2 linked regions of the Homo sapiens genome follow. The protein of the gene in region 2 interacts with the protein of the main gene of each other region in a pairwise test. Each region holds a gene or a part of one and is shown on either strand. Other genes may lie near its edges.

What was found. Proteins that work in one complex are often made in the same cells at the same time.
Region 1: the proteins of CREB3L1 (region 2) and TSPAN2 interact in binary tests that used the Homo sapiens proteins (3 or more experiments, as listed by UniProt).

What each region holds. Positions count from the first base shown.
Region 1 is NC_000001.11:115,054,938-115,058,590, forward strand, and holds part of TSPAN2 (tetraspanin-2), read right to left. Parts: intron 2,672-3,653; coding exon 2,600-2,671; intron 1-2,599. UniProt on the Homo sapiens protein: May play a role in signalling in oligodendrocytes in the early stages of their terminal differentiation into myelin-forming glia and may also function in stabilizing the mature sheath.
Region 2 is NC_000011.10:46,312,022-46,315,674, reverse strand, and holds part of CREB3L1 (cyclic AMP-responsive element-binding protein 3-like protein 1), read right to left. Parts: intron 3,351-3,653; coding exon 3,201-3,350; intron 3,064-3,200; coding exon 3,005-3,063; intron 2,825-3,004; coding exon 2,756-2,824; intron 505-2,755; exon of another isoform or gene 1-504.

The sequences.
Region 1 (3,653 bases), on a different chromosome or scaffold from region 2:
GATCATGCCACTACACTCCAGCCTGGGCAACAGAGTGAGACTCTGTCTCAAAATAAATAAATAAATAAATAATAATAAAAGACAGTTAACTTCATATCCTGCTTTGGGTCTTTCAGCTCCTCAGGAAGCCTGCACTGCCAGTTACTTTTTTTCCTTCCTATACATTCAGCCTCTCCTTATCCATTGACATTTCTACTTATCCTATCACCATGCTCAGTTCTTCAATCAAAACAAACAAAACAACACTCGAGACTGTCCTCCTCTAGTTCTGCCATTAGGCCCTCCTTCCCTTCATTGCCAGCTTCTTTTTGTAAAAAACAAATGTACAAAAGGTATATTGGCTTTAGTCACAAAAGGAATACATGCTTCTTGTAGAAATCTGGAAAAGAGATTTTTTTTTTTTTAAAAAGAAATGTCTGTATTCTCACCATAAAAGGTAATAAATTTGTTGGTGATACTTACACACACAAACACACCTACACCCTTAGGTCATTCTTTATATTCAACAGTGAGCTTTTTAAACTTAATATTACAACTTTAAAAATGCCTTGTTTCACTAAAAATTTCTTTGAAATCATGATTATGATGATTATTTTTTTTTTTGGAGACAGAGTCTCGCTCTCTCACCCAGGCTGTAGTGCAGTGGCGCGATCTCGGCTCACTGCAACCTCTGCCTCCCAGGTTCAAGTGATTCTCCTGCCTCAGCTTTCTGAGTAGCTGGGATCACAGGCACATGCCACCACGCCTGGCTAATTTTTGTATTTTTAGTAGACGGGATTTCACCATGTTGCCCAGGGTGGTCTTAAACTCCTGAGCTCAGGCAATCTGCCTGCCTCTGCCTCCCTAAGTGCTAGGATTACAGGTGAAATCATGATTCTTAATGGTGGTAAAACATTTCATCATATGAATATACTACAATTTATCCAAACAATCCCCTATTGCCACATATTAAGGGTCTGTCCAGTGTTTTGTTCTTATGAATAACATGTAATGAGCATGATTTGCACAAAAACGTCTGTCTGCATTTCTGATTCCTTTTCCTTAGAATAAACTCCGAGAAGTGGAATTTCTGGATAGAAGGGCATAAACATACTTAATCCTCTAGTCTTACATAGTCATACTGACCTTTAAAACTATTTACTAATTTCTCTGAAAATGCTCACGACATCACGTTTACCAAAACTGTGTATTATTGTTAAGGGAAAGGAAAAACACTTGGTCAATTTCATAGATTAAACAACAGCATCTCTTCATTTTAATTTGCTATTGATTTTAAATATTACTTTTAATTTTCTATATTTTCTATATGTTTAATGGTAATTTGGACTTTGACTTTTGTAAACTTTCTTTCTGTGTCCTTGGCTCAAATCGAAACTTCTTGAAAGGATGCTCTCTCTCCTCACATCTCGCTCTCTGAAACCTGGGCTCTGTCCTCAATCCATCCCTCACAGCACGTCACCAGTTGGTTCCTTGCATGCTAAATCCTGCCAGCTTTTCAGCAGTTATTAGTAGACCTTCTTAGGCTTTCAGTTCCCCACACAAACCATGTCATTTCTGCCTCTGTGTTGTTGCTTACGCTGGTCTCTCGGCACGCAGGCCTCCCCCTCCCGCTTTCTGCCCAATGCTTGCATAATTACTTTCCATTCTTGAAGATTTAGCTGAGACATCATTACCTCTGTCAGCCTTCCCCATCCCCCAGCCTCTCGCCTCTCCTAAGTGCGTTTCCCTCTGTGCTTTCCGAGCACGTTGCACATTCCATGCATTCCTAATCACTGGACCGTATGGACTTCATGTTCATCCCTCCTATCAGACTGCAATGCAAGCTCCTTGTGAGTAGGAACTTTTTCTCCTTCTCCTTTGCATCCACAGTGCCGAACATAAGGTAGGCAGCTGATCAATACTGAATTGCCCTCAACAGCAGCACCTGGGCCTGGTGACCATTCCCTCCCCTTCCCGTGCTGTCTCCTCACTTGTGTCTGGCCGCCCCTCCCAGTTTCCTTCTTTGGCATCTCTTCTTTTGCCCACCCTTAAATTGTCCCCCAAGGATCTATCCTCATCCTTCTTTTCTTCCAAGTCTAATGGATCAAATCCGTATTTATAGCTTTAAGTTTCCCATCAAGTGCTGACACTCAGACCTCTCTCCTGAGCCACAAACCAGATTTTCCAACTGCCTACTGGATATTTCCATTTGGAAGTGCCACTGGCTCCTCAAAATCACCATGTTAAACACAAAGCTCATTTTCTTTTCTCCACAATTGGCTCCTTTTCCTCTCTCCCTCAGCTCCATAAATGACACCATCATCTATGTAGGTGGTGAAGCCAAAAACCCAGTAATGGATTCTCCTCTCTTCTCTGGTCACCACTCCTGTAGTTGTCACTTTCTAAAGGGCCCTCTTTAACATCTCTTGCTAACAACAAGGACAGCAGCCTTCCCAATGGGTCTCTCAGCTCAACGCTATTCATTTTCCATCAATCCTCTATGCTGCCACTAGAGCAAATTCAGTAAAATGCAGATCCCATCCGAGATTCTACCTTCAATGGCTTCCTAAGCTAGCAGCATGATACTACAGGTAGAGTAAGAACCTTGGTAGAAGCTTACCTTGTGTCCTAGAAGCTCCTTTGGGCATGTAGGTTGGACCTGTTCGGAGCTTTCTTTTCCACAGCACTGAAACTAGAGAGTCAGAAAAGAGACTTCAGGACCAGGCGGGAGGAGTAGCAGCTACAAGTCTGGGCACCCTGCTAAGGACTGGGGTGCCGAGGCGGCAAAGCAGCTCCGAGGCCCAGTCACTGCAACCCAGACTGCTATTTCTGGAAGGAGAGTGAAGAATCACATAATCATGCTGGCAAAACAAGAAAATGACTTCGCTAAAGCCATCTGAGTTTATGATGGGAAGTGACTCAAGGCAACCCAAACAAGGCAAGAAGCTAATTGACAGTGTCTGTGTAAATTGCTACTTTTTAGAAAGGGGTTGGGGCTTTAGATTCCTTCTTTCAGACTGGGAGTCATTTAACCTGCTGAGGAGCTCAAGTTTTATGAGCTGCAGAAGGACTCATTAGCTGGGAATAGTCTGGGGAAGAGGGGAGAAGTGGCTGCAGGAAATTCCAGGGTCCAAAAGACCAGATTTGAAGATTGGCCAGCAAACAGGTGTCCTGCTTAGGCTAGCTGGCCCTTTAAGACAAAAGAACCTGTGTGCTGCTTCAGGTCCTGGCGGCAGCTGAGGTGAAACCGTATAAATGTATAAATGGTGGCCACTTTCCAAGACATACTTGTCCTAGACAAGAACTAGGTACCTGAAAACACCTGGCCCAGGAATTCACAGCTACTTCTTCATATCACAGTGTCTAAAAAATCAGAATAACTCTGGCCTGGCCCATCTCCTCTGTAAGCCTTCTGTGATTAACTGCATGTAGCTCTGAGCACTCCACGGACAGCACAGTCCCACTGAATGTTCCAGAAGGGAGTGTAGCCATCTCCTGTGACCCTTCATTCTACAAATGAGGGAGCTGCGTGGGTATCAGGGAGGCCAAGTAACTTGCTCAAGGTCACAAGGCTGTTGAATGGTAGAGCTGCAGCTAGAAATTAGCTTTTCTGACTTACAGGTCACACTTGTTTCTGTTACACCACAATGCTACCCTCTGACAAAGCCTGCTAT
Region 2 (3,653 bases):
ATTTTTGTATTTTTAGTAGAGACGGGGTTTTGCCAGGCTTGTCTGGAACTCCTGACCTCAGGTGATCCACCCGCTTCGGCCTCCCAAAGTGTTGGGATTACAGGCATGGGCCACCGTGCCCAGCCATTTTTGCTTTATTGCTGTGTTTGCTTTTATCACGGCACTTCGTTTATTTATATATCTCCACATCAGTCTCCTTTATTAACTGTGGCCTCCCTGAGGGTGAGGACCGGGTCCCACTCAGCGTGGAATCTTCTGGGTGCATACAGAATGCGTTCAGCACAGGCTTGGTGGGCAAATGTTTAATCTCTCTCCACCCAAACGGGCACGTAGGGGTTGCAGTTCCCACAATGTACAGCAGGTGGCGAAATAACTACAAGGGCTTGGACCTACTTTGGGCCAGAAAGGAACCCCAGCCAGAGACAGAGGGGTGGGGTGGGGGGTCAGGTGGGATTCTCCAGGCCAATCAGGGAACAGAGGAGTGGCTGGATCCCGCTGGAGAAGCTGGGGGAGAAGGAAGGAAAGAAGGAAAAAGTCTTGTGTTGAGCACCTGCTGCATACCAAGGCTGTTGTCTAGGTTATTGTAATTAATCCCAGCAAATAATTATTAAAGACCTACCACAGGCTCATGGCTGGGCACTATCAGGAATTTGGAATGAAAATAATGGTGGGGTGTGGTGGCTCACGCCTGTAATTTCAGCACTTGTGGGAGGCTGAGGCAGGAGGATTACATGAAGTCAAGAGTTCAAGACCAGCCTGGCCAACATAGTGAAACCCTGTCTCTACTAAAAATACAAAAATTAGCCGGGTGTGGTGGTACACGTCTGTAATCCCAGCTATTTGGGAGGCTGAGGCATGAGAATTGCTTGAACCCAAGAGGCGGAGGTTGCAGTGAGCCGAGATTGTGCCACTGCACTCCAGCCTGGGCGACAGAGCAAGACTGTGTCTCAAAAAAAAAAAAAAAGTAAATAAAAATAAAAAAGTAAAAATAATGAAAGAAGGCCAGGTGCAGTGGATCACACCTATAATCCCAGCACTTTGGGAGCCAAAGCAGGAGGTATGCTTGAGTCCAGGAGCTGGAGACCAGCCTGGGCAACACAGCAAGACCACGTCTCTACAAAATACTTAAAATTAGCCAGGGGTGGTGGTGTGCGCCTGTGGTCCTAGCTACTTAGGAGGTTGAGGGGGGAGAATCAGGAGTTTGAGGCTGCAGTGAGCTATGATCACCCCACTACGCTCCAGCATGGGCAACAGAGTGAGACCCTATCTCAAGAAAATAAATAAATAAAAATAATGAAAGAAGAATAAAAGCTAACATGAATTGCACATTTCTAAATGCCAAGCATCAGGCTGGATCCTTTATTCGCAGGATCTTATTAATACCCTCACATCCATCCTATGAGATAATGTTTCTTTTCTTTCTTTTTTTTTTTTTTTGAGACAGAGTCTCACTCTGCCACCCAGGCTGGAGTACGGTGGCACCATCTCAGCTCACTGTAACCTCTGCCTCCCGGGTTCCAGTGATTCTTTTCCCTCAACCTCCTGAGTAGCTGGGATTACAGGCATGCACCACCACATCCGGCTAATTTTTGTATTTTTAGTAGAGATGGGGGTTTCACCATGTTGGCCAGGCTGGTCTCGAACTCTTGGCCTCAAGTGATTTGCCCGCCTCCGCCTCCCAAAATGCTGGGATTACAGGCGTAAGCCACTGTGCCTGGCCCTATGAGATAATGTTTCTATCATCCCCATTTAGACGAAGAAACAGGGGCCCAGAGATATTTAACGATTTCTCCAGAGTCACAAAAATGGCAGAGCAGCGTAAGAACCCAGAGCTGTGACTTGACGTGGCTGCTACCTGCCAGGCACTGTCCTGCTGTCTCTATACTCCTGTTTCTCAAACTTCATAGTACATGTGAATCACCCAAGGACCTTGTGAATGTGCAGTTTTTAGCTCAGTAAGTCTGGAGAGAGTTCTGAAATTCTGCATTTTTTTTTTTGAGACAGAGTCTGGCCCAGGCTGGAGTGCAGTGGCACAGTGTCAGCTCACTGCAACTGCCGCCTCTCGGATTCAAGTGATTCTTCTCCCTCAGCCTCCCGAGTAGCTGGGATTACAGGCGCCCACCACCACGCCCAGCTAATTTTCTATTTTTAGTAGAGATGGGGTTTCACCATGTTGGTCAGTCTGGTCTCGAACTCCTAACCTCAAATGATCCACCCCCCTCATCCTCCCAAAGTGCTGAGATTACAAGCGTGAGCCACCGTGCCCAGCCTGCATTTCTAACAAGCTCCTAGGTGATGCTGATGTTGCCTGTCTGGGTCAGCTGGCTTTGAGTAACAAGGATTTACACCAGTGGTTCTCAAACTTGAGGGTGCAACCTAATTACGTGGAGGGCTTATTAAAACACAGGGCGCTGGGCCCTACCCCTGGAGCTTCTGATTCAGTAGACCTGGCATGGGGCCCGAGAATAAGCATTTCTAATAATTCCCAGGGATTGTTGCTGGTCTGAGGACCACACTTTGAAAACATCTGCTCACTTAAGCAACTCCCCAGCCCTGCCAGGTGTAGGTGAGGAAAAATGGGAACACAGAGAGGGGCAGGATGTAAGTGGCCCAAGGCTGCAGGGTGTGTTTCTGGGGTCCCTGTCATCCTAAACTTAGTTCTCTCTCCTCTCCCCTGTCTCCCAGAGCTATGCAGAGCCAGGCACGGGTTGCAGAGGGGCAGGGGGCCAGGTTGGATGCAGGAGGCACTACCCACCTGTTGGCATTCTCCAGGGTCTCCACCTTCTTCCACAGTTCATTGTTCTCAGATGTAAATGTCTCCACCCTGTAGGGGCCAAGCAGGCACAGGCTCAGGGGCAGCCCCCAGACTCACAACAGCTCCTCGGCCCAGCCCACCACCATCACACTCCCTGTGCCCCCTGCCTCTGCTGCCCCCTGAGGGAGGGCCTAGGGGAGGGCAGGTCAGGCAAGGGAGTGGATTGCCCACCCCTCCCAAGCCCCTTACTTCTTTTCTAGACACTCCACATACTCCTTCTTCTTACGACGGCTCTCCTGGGCTGAGATCTAGAGGGGGAGGCCCGAAAACAAGGGTTAGCACTGCCACATATTCACTTCCTGGGCCCCCCAATTTCAGAGCTGGTATGCCAGGGGAGCCCACCCACCAAGGAAGCCCTCTGAAGCCCCAGGGTGGCAGGCTTTACCTTGTTCTTGATTTTCCTCCGGACTCTCTTCAAGGCCTTCTCCTCGGCTTTGGTGAGGGGGAGTTTTGTGGGGATGGGGTAGCCCTCAGCAATCAGGGTCCGCTTCTCCTCCTCTGTCAGGAGCAGTGGCCCTGATGTCCCCTGTAATTTCTGTAGGAAGTATGATGTGGTAGTTAGGAGCCAGGCAGCCCTGGGTTCAAATTCAAGCTCTGCCATGTGCTATCTATATGACCTGGGCAAGGCACACAATGCTCTATGCCTCAGTTTCCTCATCTGGAAAGGGAGTGGATCTGGGTGAAATTCAGTAACATGTGTCAGGTGCCAGGGCCATGCTGAGAGCTCAGGTGTTAGGCTCTTAGTGCATTGTTCGGGAGGGCTTCCTGGATCCCATCCCTGAGACTGCACCCTCAAAGCTTACTTGTCCAGGGTGCCCCAAACAGCATCTCCCTCAGA